3 linked regions of the Homo sapiens genome follow. The protein of the gene in region 2 interacts with the protein of the main gene of each other region in a pairwise test. Each region holds a gene or a part of one and is shown on either strand. Other genes may lie near its edges.

Region 1 (7,112 bases), on a different chromosome or scaffold from region 2:
GAAAAACAGTAAATAATTTTATTTGATTGTTTATTTGTTTATTTATTTTTTTGAGACAGTCTCACCCTGCCACCCGGGCTAGAGGGCTGTGGCACAGTCTCGGCTCACTGTAACCTCTGCCTCCTGGGTTCAAGCCATCCTCTCAACTCAGCCTCCCAAGTAGCTGGAATCACAGGCACATGCCACCATGCCCAGCTAATTTTTGTATTTTTAGTAGAGACAGGGCATTTCACCGTGTTGGTCAGACTGGTCTCGAACTCCTGACCTCAAGTGATCTGCCTGCCTTGGCCTCCCAAAGTGCTGGGATCACAGGTGTGAGCCACCACTCCTGGCCATATTCCATTTCCTAATCTTCAAAATGTATATTACTGACCTGGTTTGGTGGCTCATGCCTGTAATCCCAGCACTTTGGGAGGCTGAGGTGAGAGGATTGCTTGAGCCCAGGAATTTGAGACCAGTCTGGACCTGGCGAAACCCCATCTCTACAAAAAATACAAAAATTAGCCACGCGTGGTGCACACCTGTCCTCCCAGCTACTCAGGAGGCTGAGGTAGGAGGATTGCTTGAGCTCAGGAGGTTGAGGCTGCAGTGAGATTGCACCACTGCACTCCAGCCTAGGCAACAGAGCATGACCCTGTCTAAAAATAAATAAGTAAATAAAATATATATTACATAGGTGTTCATTAAATGTTTTGTTTTAGCATTGGAATGTAAACACTGTACACATATACACAATATATTGGGATACATACACAGGTAAAAGAAGAAACTTCAGATATTCTGATGAAGTCAGATACTGATGTTTATTTACCAATTTTAGTTTAAAAATACTTATTATGGTGCTTGTTTCAGCATCGTAAGTCCCCAAACTGGGGTGATACAGAAAAGATTAGCATGGCCTCTGTACAAGGATGACATGCAAATTCATGAAGGTTTCATGTTTTTAAAAAGAAAAAAAACTATTATGTTGATTCCATGGTAATTCCAAGACTCCCATTCTGTTGATAATGCCAATAAAATTATTGACACTTTTTTCTTTTAATGTTATTTAACTTTCTTTACTCTTTAGGTTGAACGCTGTTATTTCTTCTTGAGTGCTTTTGTGGACACAGCCCAGAGAAAGGAGCCTGAGGATGGGAGGCTGGTGCAGTTTTTGCTTATGAACCCTGCAAATGATGGTGGCCAATGGGATATGCTTGTTAATATTGTTGGTAAAAGTTCTTTCTTTAATGGAACTGAAACTCAGCATGATTAAGTAAGCCTGTAGTTAGGCATGGGCCAATTCTTTGGTGGTTGTGTACAGAGTAGAATTGGTCTCCAAGAAGGATATATAGTTATTTCTAAGGACCTTTAGTTCACATTCTCACCTATAAAGTGCCTTCTTAAATGAGGATTAAGGAGAGAGCTACTGTGAAGGATGGGTTGGAGAAGAAAAGGTAGTATTAAGGAGAACTAATTTTCCATGAAAAAATTGTTTTCTTCTCCATTGATGTAATCAGGAAACACATTAAAACTGTAGCTGTGTTAAAATGTCTTCAAAACATCTTTTGGGGAAATCTCATCATGCTGAGCACTTTACAAAAGTATGATAGATACACTTGAGCTTGACCAAAAGGCTGAGAAGTGACAAAGTATAGTAGATAAAAAGGATAACATAGACAGATAAATATGCACATTAAAAACCTACTTAGGCTGGGTAAGGTGGCTCAGGCATGTAATCCTAGCACTTTGGGAGACCAGGGCAGGAGGATTGCTCAAGCCCAGGAGCTCAGTACCAGCCTGGGTAACATAGTGAGACCCTGTCTCTACAGAAAATAAAACAAATAGCTGCACATGGTATCATGCACCATAGTTGCCGCTACTCAGGAGGTCAAGCCTGGGAGTTCAAGGCTGCAGTGGGCCAGGATCGTGTCACAGCACTCCAGCCTGAGTGACAGAGCAAAACTCTGTCAAAAACAAAAAACAAAAAACAAAAAACCCTGCTTCATAATATGAAGTATAAGATTTTCTGAAGTAAGCCAGCAAAATATCGCCTATTTTTTGAAACAATCACTATTTTTGCCAGGGTTTCTAATTTTTTACCTTCTTTAACACTAGAATTTGTTTTCTTTTAGAAAAATATGGTGTTATCCCTAAGAAATGCTTCCCTGAATCTTATACAACAGAGGCAACCAGAAGGATGAATGATATTCTGAATCACAAGGTACAATATATGAAGCAGGGTGGGATTGAGTTTAGTGTACTTTCCTTCAAACTTATTTTTTAAAAGGGGTTCCTGGGTATCTCTGTATACAGTTTGTGTACAAGATAACTACCAATGTCAATGTCTGTCAAAAGCAATGTAGCTACTTAATAACTTTAAAAATAATTAATATTAGAGGGTTTTTCCTTTTAAAAAACTTCCACTTTTATTTCTGTTGATGTTAATGTTTTCTTAGGGGGATAGTTAGGAAATAAAGTCCCATGTCCAATTAATATTGGCCACAAGCACACAGGGTGCGGTGTCTCTCACTTGGTTCTAGTGGAGGTGGGCTAGGACTGCTTTATGTGCTAGTAAAACCAAAAAGAGCTATTCGCAAGATTCCCTTAAAGAGTGTGCTGTGTTCTGAGACTTCCCCAGACCACATCAATGTGGTTTATCCACCCACTAAAGATTTGTTGTAGTTATTGAACTGCTTTTTATTTGCTTCAGTTATCTTAATGAATCATTGTGTCTTCTCTACATAACCAGTTTTCCCTAGGAGAGTTATAATTCCTACGGGGATGCTGCTTTGCTAGCCAGGCATGGTTTTTGAGAACTGGGAGTTGCCAGAATCTGCTGTCCTAATCCATGAGGCTGAAATTGGATTTTTCATCTCCCTGGGAGAAAGATTACATTTTAAAATCAACTATAGGTGTGTCTCCCCAACATTAGAAGTAGACTATTTTCCACCCTGGAAACGCTGGGGATTCTTATCCAAAGGCTAAAAGATCATTAATAGTACGGCATTTGATTCCATTTGAAGTCAGAGCAACATCCTCTTTAGCACTGTGGTTAAATTTCAGACTCACCTTTATCTTGGTGAAAAAATGAAATGAAAAAATGAAAATTTTATTGGGGGCTGGCATAACCATAGTCATAGTCAGCCGGCAGAGAAGGAAAAATGGACAGCTATTGAAATTCTAAGTAAAAATCTATGAGAGTAACATAGTGGCATAATTATCTTGTCTCCTGCTTTTTCTGAGTGATAGGCATTATGTGATCACATGTTTTCCCCATGCCCAGACACATAAAACACCTTTATGCGATGTTTGCAGAGAAGGAGCAGTTCCGTCTAGTATTTTGGAGGAGTAACTTATGCCTTTTCTCCTTATGGAAAGCATTTTTAGCTATGTGTTTAAGTGGACAAGTTGAAGAAAAACACATTTGCCTTTATGAACTCTGTCATGGGTCTGGCCTGAGTTATACCTCAAAATAGAACTTGCGTTGGTCTATGAGAGTCATTTACAATTGAATTCGGGTAACTGTTGGAGTGCTGAATAAGTTTCTGTCATAGATGAGAGAATTCTGTATACGACTGCGGAACCTGGTACACAGTGGAGCAACCAAAGGAGAAATCTCGGCCACACAGGACGTCATGATGGAGGAGGTAATAACAAAATTTGGATTTTTTTGTGACCCCTCTAAGGAACTCTCAGAATATTCCCATCTGTTAAAGTAATGATTAGGAAGCTTTAGTCATGGCAACGAATGTTTAATTGAATTGAAAATTACTTATTTTACACTGAAAAAACTGAGCTTAAAACTTACTTTGCCTTTTAGTGTAGGACTTGGACTTGGATTTTCTAATTCGTAGTTTAGTGGTCTGTATAATCATTCTTTTATCATTTCATAAATATTAAATACCTTCTATGAGTTTGGCACTGAGGAAACAGATGAGAAAGACATAGTCACTGCTCTTAAAGAGCTCAGTCTCTTGGGAAAAAGAAAACACATCTATAATGATGATAAATCCTATGCTAGATGTGTAAAAACTGATTTGGTGGTCATAGAGGAGGGAGTGACTAGCTCAGTGAGCTGAAGCTTTCATAGGGAAGATAGCTCTTGAAAGAGTAGTCAGAATTTACCAGGTAGATAACAAGACCATTCTAGGCAAAAGGAATTGTATGAACAGTGCCATAAACAAAGATAGAACCTTCAGGGAATCATGTGGCTGAAACATAACTTTTTTCAGTATGATGGGTAGCAAATTAAGCTAGAAAGGCAGAGATGTAAGGGATGTTGGATCGATGCCAGAACATTTGGCTTCTTTCTGTAGAAATAAAGACGGAGCTATTGATGGTTATATTTGTTAATGTATGTAAAAACATTTTAGAAAATGTAAAAAGCACTAAAATATGAGGTGGTAATATTATTTATGATCAAGACAGTTAAGAAACTTTATTATTAATACTATCCATGTCCAGAATGAATATGCATAAAACTGCAATTGGTTTGAGGAAAGAATAAATGTTTCCGTTTGTCAGCCAGTAGGCCCTTTATTAGGCTTCCTTTCAAGACTGTATGGAGTTAAAATGGCCTACTTTTTTTCACTGCGATGGAAAACACTAATGCTTCACTTGTGTTTTCCTTTAAATCTTAGAGATGCAGCATAGTGGAGCAGTGGAGTGTGTAATCTCTGAAGTCAGGCTATCTGAGCTCTAGTCTTCTCATTACTTTATATCCTGGGACAAGTTCCTTAAGCTCTAAAGGCTCAGTTCATATTTAACATGTCTAGCCTAGTGCTTGGCACAATAGCTGTTTCTTAAGTATTTGTTGAGTGGACGAATGCAGAAATTTCATTTACCAAATGCATTTAAATAATCTCATTTTTATCTCTTAAATTCTTACAGAAGAGAGGCATCTTAGTATAGTAGGAAAAAATAGGCTTTGGAGTCAGACATACATGGGTTTAAATTCTGACTCTTTTACTTAACAGTCTGTGATCCTAGGTAAGTTACTTAACCTGTCTGAGATTCAGTCAGGATCTGAAATATTTTCCTTATTGGATTTTTGGGGAATCAAGGATTAAATGTAAGCATGCAAGGCATAGTGCCTGGCACGTAGCAGGAGTTCTGTAAATGTTACTTCTTCCCTTCTTGCTTGGAATGACTGTCTTGCAGAGGCTATATCTGCTACATAATTTGCCTTTATTTAGGGTTAGATTAAGATGGTGGGGGCCAGGCACGGTGGCTCATGCCTGCAGTCTCAGCACTTTGGGAGGCCAAGGTGGGCGGATCATAAGGTCAGGAGATCAAGACCATCCTGACCAACATGGTGAAACCCCGTCTCTACTAAAATACAAATAATTAGCTGGGCGTGGTGGTATGCGCCTGTAGTCCCAGCTACTCGGGAGGCTGAGGCAGGGGAATCACTTGAACCCAGGAGGCAGAGCTTGCAGTGAGCCGAGATTGTGCCACTGTACTCCAGCCTGGTGACAGAGTGAGACTCCGTCTCCAAAAAAAAAAAAAAAAAAAAAGATGGAGGTATAGTAGGAATGAAGGTTCTGCAAACAGTTGTGGAAAAGGGCCCAGATAATACTTGCTGTAGATAATAAGCATCCTTTTGGCTTTTGATGTTTGCTTTAATGATCTTTGAACTAATGATGTGTCTAAGATTGATGTCCTCATCATTGGTAGAGCGTGGTAATTGGCTGGTAAGAATTAGGGCAGATATGTTTCACATATTTTTTTCCTCCCCTACTCCTGCCTCAGAGAAATAGTAGATCCAACTTTACCAAATCCTGAGTATGAATGTTTTATAGGATTATTTACTTAATGATTCTACCTAAACTATTTACTACAGAATTCTGTGTGTAAGGGTTTTTTCCCCCTTAGAGACAGAGTCTTGCTTTGTTGCCCAAGCTGGAGTGCAGAGGCGCAGTCATAGCTTACTGTAACTTTCAACTCCTGGGCTCAAATGCTGCTTCAGCCACCCAAGTAGCTGGGACTACAGGTGCATGCCACCATGCCCAGCTCATTTATTAAAAAAATTGTGTAGAGATTCAGTCTCACTATATTTCCCAGGCCGATCTCCACCACCTGGGCTCAAGCAGTCCTCCCACCTTAGCCTCCCAAAGATTGTGCATATTATAAAGTGTGAGCCGCCATACCTGGCCCTGTGTATAAGGTTTTAAAATTTTTACAATCCCCCAAATGACTTCTTTTCATTGAACCTGACTCTTTGGTAATGAAGAGTCTAGCTGCAGTTTTAAAGCCCCAAATTAGTACCTATGATTTGTGTAACCTTGTAGGCAAGTCAAAATGATGGCTTAATCAACAGCCGTGAAGCTCAGATAGCTTTGAATAAAATGTGTTTATGCTAAAGGCATTCTTACTGAGAAGTGAGACGCAGGCTGCTTGTTGAGATGACAGGCAAGGCAGATCTGTTTTGGAGATGTGTAGTTACCTCTATTGCAATGTTATCTCAGTGTCCATTTTTTTAGCCTGCGGATCCCCTTAAGATTATTAATGTATTCTCAGTTGGGCGCAGTGGCTCATGCCTATAATCCCAGCACTTTGGGAGGTCAAGGCAGATGGATCACTTGAGGCCAGGAGTTCAAGACCAGCCTGGCCAACATGGCAAAACCCCGTCTCTACTAAAATACGAAAAAAACATCTGGGCATAGTGGTGCATGCCTATAATGCCAGCTGCTTGGGCAGCTGAGACACAAGAATCACCGGAACCCTGCAGGTGGTGGAGACCAAAATTGTGCCACTGCAGTCCAGCCTGGGTGACAGAGCAAGGCTCTGTCTCAAAAAAAAAAAAAAAAAAAAAACCTTGTCTGTTAAAAAGCAAAACATAGCCAGGCATGGTGGTAACACTTGTAGTGCCAGCTACTTGGGAGGCTAAGGCAGATCACTTGAGTCCAGAAACCCAGGAGTTCAAGTGCTACCTGGGCAACCTAGTGAGACCTCATTTCTAAAATCAATCGATCAGTCAATCAAAGACCAAAACCAATATTTGTCAGTGCCACAAAAAGGGAAAAGAAGCCTTTATGATTGACTTAGGAAATTCTATAGCAGTGGCTGTCAGCTATTGAAAACAATATATAGGATAGGCCTAACTTGTCCCAGACTCACAAAGTCAGTTT
Region 2 (7,119 bases):
AAGCTGAAAAACAATAGGAAAAAACAATAAAAGCTGGTCCCTTGAGGCAAAAGAATAAAAAATAAATAAACGTCCAGTCAGATGATAGAGGAAGAAGAAAACCTTTGACAACATCCCACACCCACCATGACTGAAAGGCTTGAGCAAGCCTTTCAATCCTTTTCAATGAAAGGGAAATTCCTCGGTTTGATAAGAACCATTTACTACTCTCATCATTTCTATTCAACAAAGTACTGAAGAATTTAGCCAGTACAATAAAGCAAGATAAACAAATTAAATGCAGGCTGGGCACAGTGGCTCACGCTTGTAATCCTAGCACTTTGGGAGGTCGAGGCTGGCGGATCATCTGAGGTCAGGAGTTCAAGACCAGCCTGGCCAACACAGTGAAACCCTGTCTCTACTAAAAATACAAAAATTAGCTGGGCATGGTGGCAGGCGCCTGTAATTTAAAGTGAACACACTTAGGATGTCTTCAAGGGCCTGATAATGCTGAATTTACCCTGGTTTCCCAGCCCACAGTCACCTGAGACATTAACTACAGTTCCACAGCCACTAACCAATCCTATCCTTTCATGCACTTAGCCTGCAAAACTAAGAATTTAACCTTACATATAACCTTAAGCCCTCCAATTCACCAGGATAGTGAGACTATGAAATGTGAAAATTAATAAAAATAGATCAGAACACATTTCAGAAGACGACATATCAATAGTTGGCAAATGAATCAAACAGGAATGATTATACCCAAATGAGCAGGAGATAAAGGATGAATCTAAGCTAGGTTTGCTATGGACAGGAAAAAATAATTGCTGAGCCAGGTGAAGAGGCTTAGGCAAAAGAAAGAAAAAAAAAGTGATAAGTACTACAAAATTAATTTGTCTAGATTCTAGAACAAAAAATTTATATTTGGGTATGTGTGAGGTAATCTGAAAGATCAGATTAGGTCTCTGATAATCACAAAAAGTTGTGGAGTAGACTGAACAATATTATCTTCATTTATAGATAAGTAAATTCTAGCATAGAAAGGTTAACTTTTTTTTTTTTTTTTTTTTTGAGAGGGAGTCTCGCTCTGTTGCCCACGCTGGAGTGCAGTGGCGCAATTTCCGCTCACTGCAACCTCCGCCTTCTGGGTTCAAGTGATTCTCCTGCCTCAGCCTCCTGAGTAGCTGGGGTTACAGGCGGGGACCACCATGCCCAGCTAATTTTTGTATTGTTAGTACAGCCAGAGTTTCACCATGTTGGCCAGGCTGGTCTCCAACTTCTGACCTCGTGATCCGCCACCTCGGCCTCCCAAAGTGCTGGGATTATAGGCTTGAGCCACCGTGCCCAGCCAGAAAGGTTAACATTTGCCCATGGTCACAAAACTAGTTAGGGACAGGGCCAGCAATGAATAAAATTCATTTCTCTTGATTCACAGCCACATATTCATTTAATTAGATCATGATTCTGCTCAATGTTCTCCAATTTTGCCTAATATAACTCTTGAACAAAGTTTCTCACCATAAATAACCCTGCCCCCATTCACTTCTTCTTAAATGTCTACCCTTCCTCTGAAGAAATGTTTTCAAGCATATTTTCAAGATCTACTTTAAGACAAACCCTACCCTCTTACCAACAGACCTGATTACTGGACAATAAAAAGGAGGTTTCTATCCTTACTGACTACAGCCATATCCTTTCTGTGGCTACTAACAGATTTAGGTTCCAGTAATATTTTAAAAACTAACCTTGGATAATAGATTAGAAAATTACTAACTATTGCATAAAGCGGACTTCCTGCTTATTTATTGCTTGGAATTACCATCTTCAGTGCAGTCGAGGGTGAGTCTAACCGCATAGGGTGCAACTATGTTACTGTCCTTCCTCTTCACGGCAAATAAGACACACAATTCATCTTTCACAAGACCATAAAATGGGACTTCCTTTTTTAAAAAAAAGTTCCTCAATAGAAGCATGCTTAAAAATCTTTCCCACATCCTCTAAACCTTCCAAAGATCCAGTCTTCCCTTCATTATACTTTCCTACAATAACAAATTTTTTTGAAAGAGTACACTCAACCTGTCTGAACTTCAAGATTATAATTTTTATCTAGTACTGTACTTATCTCTGCCACCTACTCAAATTACCCTTAAGGAAACCAAGGATACCTGAAACGCCAAAATCAAATACTTATTTTTCAAGTCTTAACCTTATCTGTCCTGGGGATGAAGGAACTGGTGCAGTGTTCACTAGAATGATAGTAATTATGGAGCTCTTAAGGAGCTCTACTCTGTGCCAGGCACTGTACTAAGCATTCAAAAATGTTCATTTAATCTTCACAACATCCCTGAGAAGTACTACCCCCTTTTAATAGATTAAAATTGGGGCTCAAAATTACCCAGAGGCCAAGTAGTTAGTGAAGCCCATATGATTCCAATGTTTGCAGTCTCTTCCCAATTCTGTGGCATTTTCTCCATCTCTTTCACTATTTCATCAACGACGCTTATAATCAATTCTCTTATTTCACATGCTCTCCTTGGCAATTTCATTTCCTCCCAAAGCTTTAACTACATTCTATATTAGTGCTTCCCAACTTTTTAAATCTTTCTGTAAATATAAACATTTTGTGCTCTCTGTAGCTTATATTTTGAAAATAAGTTTTTTCCCATAGAAATTACAATATTGAATATGTTTGTTCAAACTACACTTCCTTCCACCACTCAAGATCTGTTAACCTCTAATGAATTGCCCCATGATTGACATCAATAGACCTTGATGCAGAAATATTTTATTGGAGAGATATCAAATCAATCTCTATTTCCTCTTCCCATGTCCACTTCTGCTAGACATTTCTCTCGAGTCATAAACATCTTTAACTGTCTAATAAGCATAGTTCCATGACTGTCGCCCCAGGCCCTTCAACATAAACCTGTCTAAAACCAAACTCTCATTTCCCTTAGCAAACCTGTTCTCTGCGTTCTCCAGCTAATCTTGTCACAACCCACCCTTGTCTATTCTTTAAGGTACCTACCTGCAAAACCGTAACGCTGATACTCTGACTTCCTTGAGCTACCAGGTAAAAAAATCAACCACTACAGGAGTGCCTATTATGGCCTGGAGTAGAGGAATGCAAAATAGTTCAAAATATCCTCTTCCTCCTGAAGAAACAGATTTTTTTTTTTTTTTGGAGAGGCATGTTCCAACTTATAAAATTAAAATATATTCACAAGCATTTTAATTTGATCTTTAATCTCTGTTTTACAGGAAAAAAAAATGAGATGTTACTTTCCACTCCTTCATTGTTGAAATAAACTTACACTCAACTAAAAGAAAACAGGTCTGAATACAATAAAAGTCAACAGGACAGCGCAAATAGCCAACTACCCAAGGACACAAAGTGACCTGGAGGCGTTCTGCGGTGGCGCTGCCGTCAAGGCCGGGGCCGCCTGGCCAGACCCTCCCTCAGACGCCCCCCGGGGCCGCCCTCACTCCCGCACGTCCCTCTGCAGCTGTCCTCAGCCGGTGGGGTCGGCAGTGACCGCGGGAAAACCCCGCTTGCTGTGCGACCCAGGGCGCGCTGAGCAGGGGCTGCGGCTGCCGCCGCTGTCCGGCTCCGGTTCCGGCCCCGGCCCCGGGCCCGGCCAGAGCTGAGTCCGGACTCAGCCAAAGCCCCTCGCCTTCAGCTTCCCAGACGTCCGACCAGTGGAAAATTAGCATACCTGGGGCAGAAGGCAGCTGCAGGGCCGGCAGTCCTGGCAAACCTAGAAGGCGGGAATAACCCTGGTGACGGGCGGGGCCGGGCTCCGGCGCTAACTGCATCCACTAGGTTTGGTCAACACAGAGCCGCGCCAACTCTCTGAGGCTGCGCCAAGACCTGAAGCGGCGGACCGAGAGCCCGGGTCTGAGACTGAGAGAGCAACGGAATGGAGGCGGGGTAGAGGCGGAAACACAACCTGCAGGGCCAGAGCGAGGCGCGAGAAGGACGGCGGCGTGAGGGGGCGGGGCGCGCAGCGCGAGAAGGCAGGCACGAGGGGCGAGCGCGAGGCGGGGCACGGCGCGTGGCGTGAGACGGGGCGGGGCGCGCGTATCGGCGCCGCGGCCGCGTGACGCGTTTTCAAATCTTCAACCGCCGCAGCCCACTCGTTTGTGCTTTGCGCCTTCCTCCTCCGCGCCTTGGAGCCGGATCCGGCCCCGGAAACCCGACCTGCAGACGCGGTACCTCTACTGCGTAGAGGCCGTAGCTGGCGGAAGGAGAGAGGCGGCCGTCCTGTCAACAGGCCGGGGGAAGCCGTGCTTTCGCGGCTGCCCGGTGCGACACTTTCTCCGGACCCAGCATGTAGGTGCCGGGCGACTGCCATGAACTCCGGAGCCATGAGGATCCACAGTAAAGGACATTTCCAGGGTAAGAAGCCCCTCCTCCGCCTGCAGTCCCTTTAATCCTTTCCTCCCCTCGTGGTTCCACCATTGATTCTTCAGACTTCTCCCGCCGGGTCCTCAGCTTCTTTTCTTCTGACCGGCCTCTGGGGTCTGAAGGAAGGAGCCCCCGTTCAGTGTTTTGCCTAAGAAGGAACGGATCCTGACCCGGCCCCTCGAGCGCTCTGCCGTTTACAGCGGCGGTCCCAGATTGATTCCCGGTCGTGCCTTCGGTTGAAAACTAGCAAACAATGTGCAGATCCGGGACCTCGCCGGGACTGCGGCGCTGTCTGCTCCCGGGCTCTCGCATATGCTAAGCCTCCGCCCGGGCCCTTGGAGGCGACGGACTGCATCCTCAATTTAAAGTCAGACGCGCTCGTGGCTTTTCGCTTCAGGATTAGATTGAGTGATTGTGGGTGGATTTTTGGTCTTACCCTTGAAAGTTTATTTTCCTTTCCTCATAAGTTGGGGGAAAGCATTGTATTTCAAACACCCCATTGCTGGTTTCAACATTACAAACAGGGAAACAAAAGCAAATTTCCATTTTCAGTCACTTTATTTGGTGAAACATTCCAGCACCTAAGTTTTTTGTACAGGTGTTTGTGTGTGTGTAGTAACTACCAATTTAAGAACAGATTGCGTTTGAAAAATTAATTTTTAAAGCAGTTGCTTGGATCTCAGATCTGTTTCTAATGAAAATAATGAAAGGTTTAGTTCTTCGTAATGGACCGTTAAGTTCTTAATACGTAGACAAATTGTATGTGAAATGGACCGTTTAGTTGTTAATATGCAGACAAACTTTATATGAAACTAAAACTTGAGCAGTCTGAAACCCTTGAGGACTAGGTTATTCTGCGTAACAGAGGATTCTTTCATCGCTAAATGAAGTTTAAACACCAGTTTTGAATGTTCAGCAGAATGGCAGATGCTCAATAAATAGTTGAGTATTAAATATCCCCATGGAGTTTACATCCTAAAAAAAGAAAATCTTTCAAAAGAGTTTTATATAGTTCCGTGCCTCAGGAATAAACACACGAATATTTCTTGCTGAGTCAACTATTATTTTACAATATGCGGTCTGTGAAAGTATATAGGGCATTTTGCCTCTATCCTAAGTAGTACTACAAAGAAATACATTTCAATGCTAATAACTTAAACTGGTAGGGTTGTAAGGATTTTTATTCTGTAATATTGTATAATGAAATATTTTAAAAATAGTAAAAGTGTCTGTGTAAAACATCTGATTCTAAACATCTTTAATAGGTGGAATCCAAGTCAAAAATGAAAAAAACAGACCATCTCTGAAATCTCTGAAAACTGATAACAGGCCAGAAAAATCCAAATGTAAGCCACTTTGGGGAAAAGTATTTTACCTTGACTTACCTTCTGTCACCATATCTGAAAAACTTCAAAAGGACATTAAGGATCTGGGAGGGGTAAGTGAAAACCGTACACTGGCATAGAAGGAAAAATTTGTAACTAGTACTTTCTACTGTGTAATCATTTAAATTTTTCATTTTGGAAAACGCTTCTATTAGCACCAAGCTTAACATTTTTATCAGCTGTTTATCGTTAACAAAAAACCATTTGTTTTAACCTTTTGTGGACTGACAGACCTTTCAGGTTTCTCTGATTAGCAGTCTAGTGTAAAGTTCTTAGAGTGTAAGACTCCCCTGTCCTAGTGGAACTGCTCATTGACTGCTTACTGTAATGTTGGAATGTCCTCCAGATAACAGCAATTTCTTGATTATGAATCTTGGGGAGCTACATAAGTTTGTCTGGACTAGTGTAACAGTTAAGAATGTTACTACAGAACAGCCATGCAAACCACAGTTAAAATTGTTCCTGAGTGATACAGATGTTGTTTCAACAGAATGAATGTTATTAAAGGAAAAGAAATTTGCATTAAGAATCTGGAATACCTTCTTTCCTACCTTATACACTGATTAGATGATTGGGAAATTAGAAAACTCAGGCAAAATTCTAGGACCTTAATAGGATTAAGGTTGATATTGGCTGAATTTTGGCAAATGAGGTAATTAAGATTTTTTTCTGTTTAAAAGGTTCATGCTGGACTTTGACTTTCTGAAGGTCTGCGTCTTTGAATGTCTAAACTGATCCTTTCATTCCCAGACTAGTAACTTTTCAATTTATTTTTATTTTTATTTTGAGACGGAGTCTCATTCTATATGGCCTAGGTTGGAGTGCAGTGGTGCGATCTCAGCTCACTGCAACCTCCTCCTCTCAGGTTCAAGTGATTCTTGTGCCTCAGCCTCTGTCTCCTGAGTAGCTACGATTACAGGCATGTGCCACCACTCCTGGGTAATTTTTGTATTTTTAGTAGAGTCAGGGTTTCACCGTGTTGCCCAGGCTGGTCTCAAACTTCTAACCTCAGGTGATTTGCCCACCTCAGCCTTCTAAAGCGCTGGGATTGCAAGCATGAGCCCTCCAGGCCCAGCCGATTCCCAGACTAGAAACTTATCAGAAGAACATGTGCTAACAGGTTTCCTGGAACTGTTAATATATTTTATTTACTTATCTCTGAAAAGTTATTCTACTTTTTTACTATTCATTTTGTTAAACTAAAACACTGTCACATGCTTGTAATAGTTGTATTTATGGTAATGATCATATGACAGCATTCTTAAAGGTCATGTTTTCTAGGCCTGCCACCCTATTGACTATACACCTATTAAGAGTATCTTAATGTGTTAAGGACCTTAGACA
Region 3 (7,112 bases), on a different chromosome or scaffold from region 2:
GTTCTCTGTACAGCACTGATCTAGAGGACACCGCTTTTTAGTATGTGATGCTAGTTTTTTTGGATAACCAGCTACTCACTGACTCTCTTTCAGGATCTGAATTTGGTCACTGTATCTTATCCGTTCTAGGGGTTTTGTTTTTGTTTTTGCTTTTTTTGTTTTTGAGATGGAGTTTCGTTCTTGTCACCCAGGCTGGAGTGCAACAGTGTGATCTCGGCTCACTGCAACCTCCTCCTCCCAGGTTCAAGCAATTCTGCCTCAGCCTCTGGAGTAGCTGGGATTACAAGTGCCTGCCACCATGCCCAGCTAATTTTTTTTTTTTTGAGACTGAGTCTTGCTCTGTCACTCAGGCTAGGGCGCAGTGTTACAATCTTGGCTCACTGCAGCCTCTGCCTCTTGGGTTCAAGTGATTCTCCTGCCTCAGCCCCCTGAGTAGCTGGGATTACAGGTGCATGCCACCATGCCCAGCTAATTTTTGTATTTTTAGTAAAGACAGGGTTTCACCATGTTGGCCAGGCTGGTCTTGAACTCCTGACCTAGTGATCCGCCCACCTTGGCCTCCCAAAGTGCTGGGATTGTAGGCGTGAGCCACCACACCGAGCCGCTAATTTTTGTATTTTTAGTAGAGACAGGATTTCACCATGTTAGCAAGGCTGGTCTCGAACAGGTGATCTGCCTGCCTCGGCCTCTCAAAGTGCTGGGATTATAGGCGTGAGCCACCGCGCCCGACCCAGACCCTCATCTCCAATGCTACTGTCAAAATTAAAGCCATCGTAGTCTCTTTCCTGGACGCTGGAACAGCCCTCTAACTGGTTTCTTGCCTCCAGTCTTGCTTCTCTTCCACCTGCCATACTGGAACCAAGTCCTTCAGTGACTTCTTGTTACCCTTACTATCTGATCCAGGACTTTTAAAGTGGTTTATGAGGCCCTTGTTGGCTCCACCCTTGCCTTGCTCTGAGACTTTATCACTGCGTACCCCCTCCTCATACTCCATCCCAGCCGCACTGAACCTTTTTTCAGTTCTTTAATTTTGAACCTGTGTCTAGGCCTTTTTGCATCTGCTGATTTCTTGTGCCTGATTCCCCCTCCCATCCCATGTCCACTTTTCTGGCTAAGTCTTACTTTTCCTTTGGGAACTTAAGTTAGGTACCAAAGTAGGGTACCCCTGCTCCATGTTACTGCAGGATCCTATTATATATGTCTTTGAAAAATAGTGTGTAAAGTGCATTGTTGAAATTCCTTGTTTCGGAAGTTCCTTTGCTGGATTTTGACCCCGCGAATTCAGGGCCCCTGTATCTGCATTATTCACCACTGTATCCTAATTTCTTAGAATTTGCCTTGTACATTGAAAGTGCTCAGTGGACACTTGTTGAACAAAAGCAGTGAAAAGACTGATTAATCAGAAATGTTGTTAATTGAAATGGCTAGTGAGATCACAAATCTCAAAATTTTTCTTTTCTTTTTTTCTGGAGTCAGTGTCTTGCTCTGTTGCCCAGGGTGGAGTGCAGTGGCGTGATCTCGGCTCACTGCAACCTCCGCCTTCTGGGTTCAAGCCATTCTCATGCCTCAGCCTCTCGAGTAGCTGGGATTAAAAGTGTGCACCACCATGCCTGGCTAATTTTTCTATTTTTAATAGAGACAGGGTTTTGCCATGTTGGCCAGGCTGGTCTTGAACTCCTGGCCTCAAGTGATCTGCCCCCACTTGGCCTCCCAGAGTGCTGAGATCTCAGGTGTGAGCTGCTGCGCCCAGCCTCTTTAGCTGTTTTCCCTTCAACTATTGGTTAGACCAAGATCATTATTCTCGTTATATTTAAGCTTCTTTGGTTGTATCTAACAGAACTAGACTAGCTCATGCAAAAAAGAGCAGGGTTGGGTGAAGAGGGGCAGAGCAGACTATTTTATCACTAGCATTTTAGAGAATTTAAAGCAATAATAAAATGAACTAAAAGTTAGTTGGTCTGCTTTTTATTATCACCATGAATCTAAACAGACAATCTGTGCCCTTATTGTCTGTACCCAGCTTGGACCTCTTCTACCACTCTGTCCTTGGTAGGCCACTGAAAAAAGTTAATTTATATTAAGGCTATAAAACCCAAGAACAGGGGAAGTGGTTGGGTATTCGAAGAGACTGAGTGGAATCAGGAACTGGAAAGCTAGCAGGAATCCAAGCAACTCAGTATTTCTTCTCTTGGGATACATTAATCTCTGCACACTTTCTCTTTCTCTACTCCATGTCTCCCAAATTTACTTGTTCTCGGTTCCAACCCACGCTAGCTAGCATCTTTATTTTCAGGCATAGAAAATCTGATTGGCACAACATGGAGTCAGGAATCCATTCACTCAGGGATCAGTCATCTGTGGCCATGGCACAGAGTTAGGTAGGACAATCGTGACTGTTATCCACACCTCAACATTGGGGGCGTTCTCAAAGAAGAAGAATAGCTCCGGCAGCCATGGCAGATGGCATACGTAGGAGTTTTTAAGTTATAATAACTTACACATGGTTTTAAAAAAAATCAACATGATGGTATGAACTGAGTGAAAGTACGTGCTCCCTCCATTGAAGTAACCACTTTTTTTTTTTTTTTTTTTTTTTTTTTTTGAGATGGAGTCTCGCTCTGTCGCCCAGGCTGGAGGGCAGTGGTGCGATTTCGGCTCACTGCAACCTCTCCCTCCCAGGTTCAAGCGATTCTCATGCCTCAGCCTCTTGAGTAGCTGGGACTACAGGCGACCACCACCACACCTGGCTAATTTTTGCATTTTTAGTAGAGTCGGGGCTTCACCGTGTTGGCCAGGATGGTCTCGACCTCCTCTGCCCTCGTGATCCACCACCCTCGGCCTCCCAAAGTGCTGGGATTAGAGGCATGAGCCACCGTGCCCTGCCTGAAGTAACCGCTTTTAACTGTTTTTGCTTTTAGAGGTTTTTTTCTTTGAGACAGAGTCTCGCTCTGTCACCCAGGCTAGAGTGCAGTGGCACGATCTCTGCTCACTGCAACCTCTACCTCCCAGGTTCAAGCAGTTCTACTGCCTCAGCCTCCCGAGTAGTTGGGACTACAGGCGCCTGCCACCACACCCAGCTAACTTTTTGTATTTTCGTAGAGATGGTGTTTCACTATGTTGCTCAGGCTGGTCCAAAAAAATTTTTTTTCTTTGAAATAAAATTCACATAACAAAATTTAACATTTTAAAATGTACAATTGAATTTTTTTTACTGTATTCATAATGATGTTGTGCAACCATCACCACCACTATCTTTTTCTCTTTTTTTTGAGACGGAGTCTCACTCTGTTGCCCAGGCTGGAGTGCAGTGGTGCAAACTTGGCTCACTGCAACCTCTGCTTACCGGGTTCAAGCGATTCTCTTGCCTCAGCCTCCCAAGTAGCTGGGATCACAAGCATGCACCACCATTCCTGGCTAATTTTTGTATTTTTAGTAGAGACGGAGTTTTACCATGTTGGTCAGGCTGCTCTTGAACTCCTGATCTCAGGTGATCCACACGCCTCGGCCTCCCAAAGTGTTGGGATTACAGGCATGAGCCACCACGCCCGGCCACCCCTATCATTTTCATCACTCCAAAAAGAAACCCCATACCTTTAGTAGTCTCTCCCATTTCTTCTGTCTTCCATCTCTGGCAACAACTATACTTCTGCCCATGGATTTACCTATTCTGGACGTTTCGTGTAGGTGGAATTATACAACATGTGGCCTTTGAGGTCTGGCTTCTTTTCATTTACCATGATATTTTCATGGTTCATCCATGTCATAGTATGCATCAGTACTGCATTCCTTTTTTTTTTTTTTTTAAGAGATAGAGCCTGGCTCTGTCGTCCAGGCTGGAATGCTGTGTGGCAAGATCATGGTTCACCGCAGCCTTGAACTTCCAGTCTCAAGTGATCCTGCAGCCTCAGCTTCCTGAGTAGCTGGGACTACAGGCATGTATTACCTGTATTACCACACCCAGCTAATTTTTAAATCATTTTTTGTAGATTTGGGGTCTCACTATGTTGCCCAGGCTACACTCAAACTCCTGGCCTCAAGTGACCCTCCCGCCTCGGCCTCCCAAAGTGCTGGGATTACAGATGTGAGCCACTGTACCCAGTCTGCATTCCTTTTTATGGCTGAAAATAACATTCCATTGTATGTCTATACTGCATTTTGTTTATCCATATATTTGCTGATGGACACTTAGGTTATTTCCTGGCTGTTATAAATACTGCTACTATAAACATTCATGTACAAGTTTTTGTGTGAATGTAAGCTTTTTGGTTCTTTCCCAGATATACCTAGGGATGGAATTGCAAGGTCATATGATAATTTTATATTTAACTTTTTGAGGAATTGCCAAACTTTTCCACAGTGGCTGCACCATTTTACTTCCCAGGTTCAAGCAATTCTCCTGCCTCAGCCTCCCAAGTAGCTGGGATTACAGGTACCACCAGCAAGCCCAGCTAACTTTTGTATTTTTAGTAGAGATGAGGTTTCACCATGTTGGCCAGGCTGGTCTCAAACTACTGATCTCAGGTAATCTGCCTGCCTTGGCCTCCCTAAGTGCTGGGATTACGGGCATAAGCCACTACGCCTGGCCTAAAATGTTTTTAAGAAAGGTTGTGTGAGAAGAGAACAAGAGGCACATTATATAATGTTAAAACAGTCAGTTCACCAAGAAGACCTAACTATATATGCACCAAGCAACAGAGCTTCAAAATGTATGATGCAAAAACCAGCAGAAATAAAAGAAGAAATAGGCAAATCTGCAATTGTAGTTAGATATTTTACTACTCCTCTCTCAGTACTTGACAGAATAGTGGGTAGAAAATCAAAAAGAATACTGAACAACACAAAACTACACAACACTGTCAACCAAGTAGATCTAATTGACATTTGTTTACCTAATGACAGCAGAATACACATTCTTTTCAAGTGCACATGTAAATTCACCAAGATAAACCACATTCTGGGTCATAAACCAAATAGTAAACTTTATATATAAGAAGAACACTTCTAAACAATCCATGGATTAAAAACTCTCAAAGGAAAGCTTTGAATATTGTGAACTAAACCAAAATGAAAACTCAACATACCAAAATTTGTGGGATACAGCCAAAGACATGCTTAGATGCATTAGCTGCCTTAATTAGAAGAGAAGGTCTCAAGTGAATAATTTAAGCTTCCACCTATGAAACTAGAAATGAAGAGCAAAATAAACCCAAATTAAACAGAAGAAAGAAATAATAGAGAACAAAAATCCATGAAATAGAAAACAGAAAAAAAAGAAAAAATCAGTGAAACTCAAAGCTCTTTAAAAAAAAAATCAATAAAATTGTAAACCTCTAGCCATACTGGCAAAGGAAAAAAAAAAAGGAAAACAAATTACCAATAGTAGAAAAGAAAAAAAGGAAGACAAATTACCAATATTAGAAAAGAAAGAGGAGATAACCACCGTAGACTGTACAGGCATGAAAAGGATAATACAAACAGCTCTACAGATAGAAATTCATCAACTTAGATGAAATGGACCAGTTCCTCAAAAACCACTGTATTAGCTTTCTATTTCTCCTGTAATAAATTACAAATGTAGTGACTTTAAAACAAAAGGTTTTTATTTACAGTCCTGGAGACAGAAGTCTGACATGGGTCTTACTGGGATAAAATCAAATTGTTGACAGGACTTGCATTCCATTGTGGAGGCTTTAGGAGAGAATCTGTTCCTTTTCTTTTCCTGCATCTAGAGTCTGCCCACATTTCTTGGCTTGTGGCCCCCTTCCGTTTTCAAAGACAACAAGTCGAGTTGTTCTCACATCTTACTCTAACTTCCTCTTTTGCCACATCCTTCCACATTTAAGGACCGTTGTGATTACATTGAACCCACCCAGATTGTTTTTTTTTTTAAGTTCAACTGATTATTAACCTTAATTCCATCTGCTACCTTAATTCCTATGTAACATATCTTTACAAGTTCTGGGGATTAGAACATCAGTATCTTGGTTGGGTGGGAGGGGGTCATTATTCTGCTGATCACAGCCACAAACTATCCAAACTCACCCAAGTAGAATAATATTTCACCTTTTACGTCTGGCTTATCTCACTTAGCATAATGTTTTCAAGGTTTATTCCTGTGTCTTCGTTGCTTTTTTTTTTTTTTTTTTTTTTTTTTTTTTTTTTTTTTGAGTCTGAGCCTCACTCTGTCTCCCAGGCTGGAGTGCAGTGGTGCGATCTCAGCTCACTGAAACCTCCGCCTCCTGGGTTCAAGCAATTCTCCTGTCTCACCCTCCCGAGTAGCTGGGATTACAGGCGTGTGCCACCACGCCCGGCTAATTTTTGTATTTTTAGTAGAGACGGGGGTTTGCCATGTTGGCCAGGCTGGTCTTGAACTCCTGACAGGTGATCCGCCCGCCTCGGCCTCCCAAAGTGCTGGGATTACAGGCGTGAGCCACCCCGCCTGGCCCTCGCTGCATTTTAATAAAGATACAAAAGCTAATTCAAATGGAAAAAGGATATTCTTTTCATCAAAGACATGAACAATTTAACATTTACATGGAAAAATAAAATCCTCAACCTTTACCTCATATTTTATATAAAATTAACTCAAAATGGATCATACATCTGAGTATAAAACCTGAAACTATAAAACTTTTAGAAGAAAACAGATCTTTGTGACCTGGGGTTTGGCAATGAGTTCTTAAGACATGACACCGAAGGCACAGTGCGTAAAACAAAAATTTGATAAATTGGGCTTCATCAAAATTAAAAACCTTTGTTCTGTAAAAAAAAATTCTATTAGGAGCATGAAAAGACAAGCTATACACTGGGAGAATATATTTGAAAATCCGGTATCAGAAAAAGAACTTGAATCCAGAATATATAAGAAAACACAGCAGTAATTTAAAAACTCAATTTTAAAAGGGGCAAAAGATTTAAGTAGGCTTAAATAGACATTTCACCAGATAGGATACAAGGATGGCAAATATCCCCCTGAGAAGAGTTCAGCATTGTTAGCCATTAGGGAAATGCAAATTTAAGCCATGATATTGCATATTAGAACAGCTAAAATTTAAAAATACATAGTGATAGTACTAAGTACTGGCAAGGATGGGAACAGCTGGATCTCTTAG

The links.
Region 1: the proteins of DBF4 (region 2) and BLMH interact in binary tests that used the Homo sapiens proteins (3 or more experiments, as listed by UniProt).
Region 3: the proteins of DBF4 (region 2) and MCMBP interact in a two-hybrid assay, tested with the Homo sapiens proteins (one study listed by BioGRID).

Annotation. Positions count from the first base shown.
Region 1 is NC_000017.11:30,281,905-30,289,016, reverse strand, and holds part of BLMH (bleomycin hydrolase), read left to right. Parts: intron 1-1,069; coding exon 1,070-1,211; intron 1,212-2,114; coding exon 2,115-2,203; intron 2,204-3,536; coding exon 3,537-3,629; intron 3,630-7,112. UniProt on the Homo sapiens protein: The normal physiological role of BLM hydrolase is unknown, but it catalyzes the inactivation of the antitumor drug BLM (a glycopeptide) by hydrolyzing the carboxamide bond of its B-aminoalaninamide moiety thus protecting normal and malignant cells from BLM toxicity.
Region 2 is NC_000007.14:87,872,398-87,879,516, forward strand, and holds the start of DBF4 (protein DBF4 homolog A), read left to right. Parts: upstream 1-4,095; 5' UTR 4,096-4,335; coding exon 4,336-4,381; intron 4,382-5,655; coding exon 5,656-5,828; intron 5,829-7,119. UniProt on the Homo sapiens protein: Regulatory subunit for CDC7 which activates its kinase activity thereby playing a central role in DNA replication and cell proliferation. Required for progression of S phase.
Region 3 is NC_000010.11:119,862,783-119,869,894, reverse strand, and holds part of MCMBP (mini-chromosome maintenance complex-binding protein), read left to right. Parts: intron 1-7,112. UniProt on the Homo sapiens protein: Associated component of the MCM complex that acts as a regulator of DNA replication.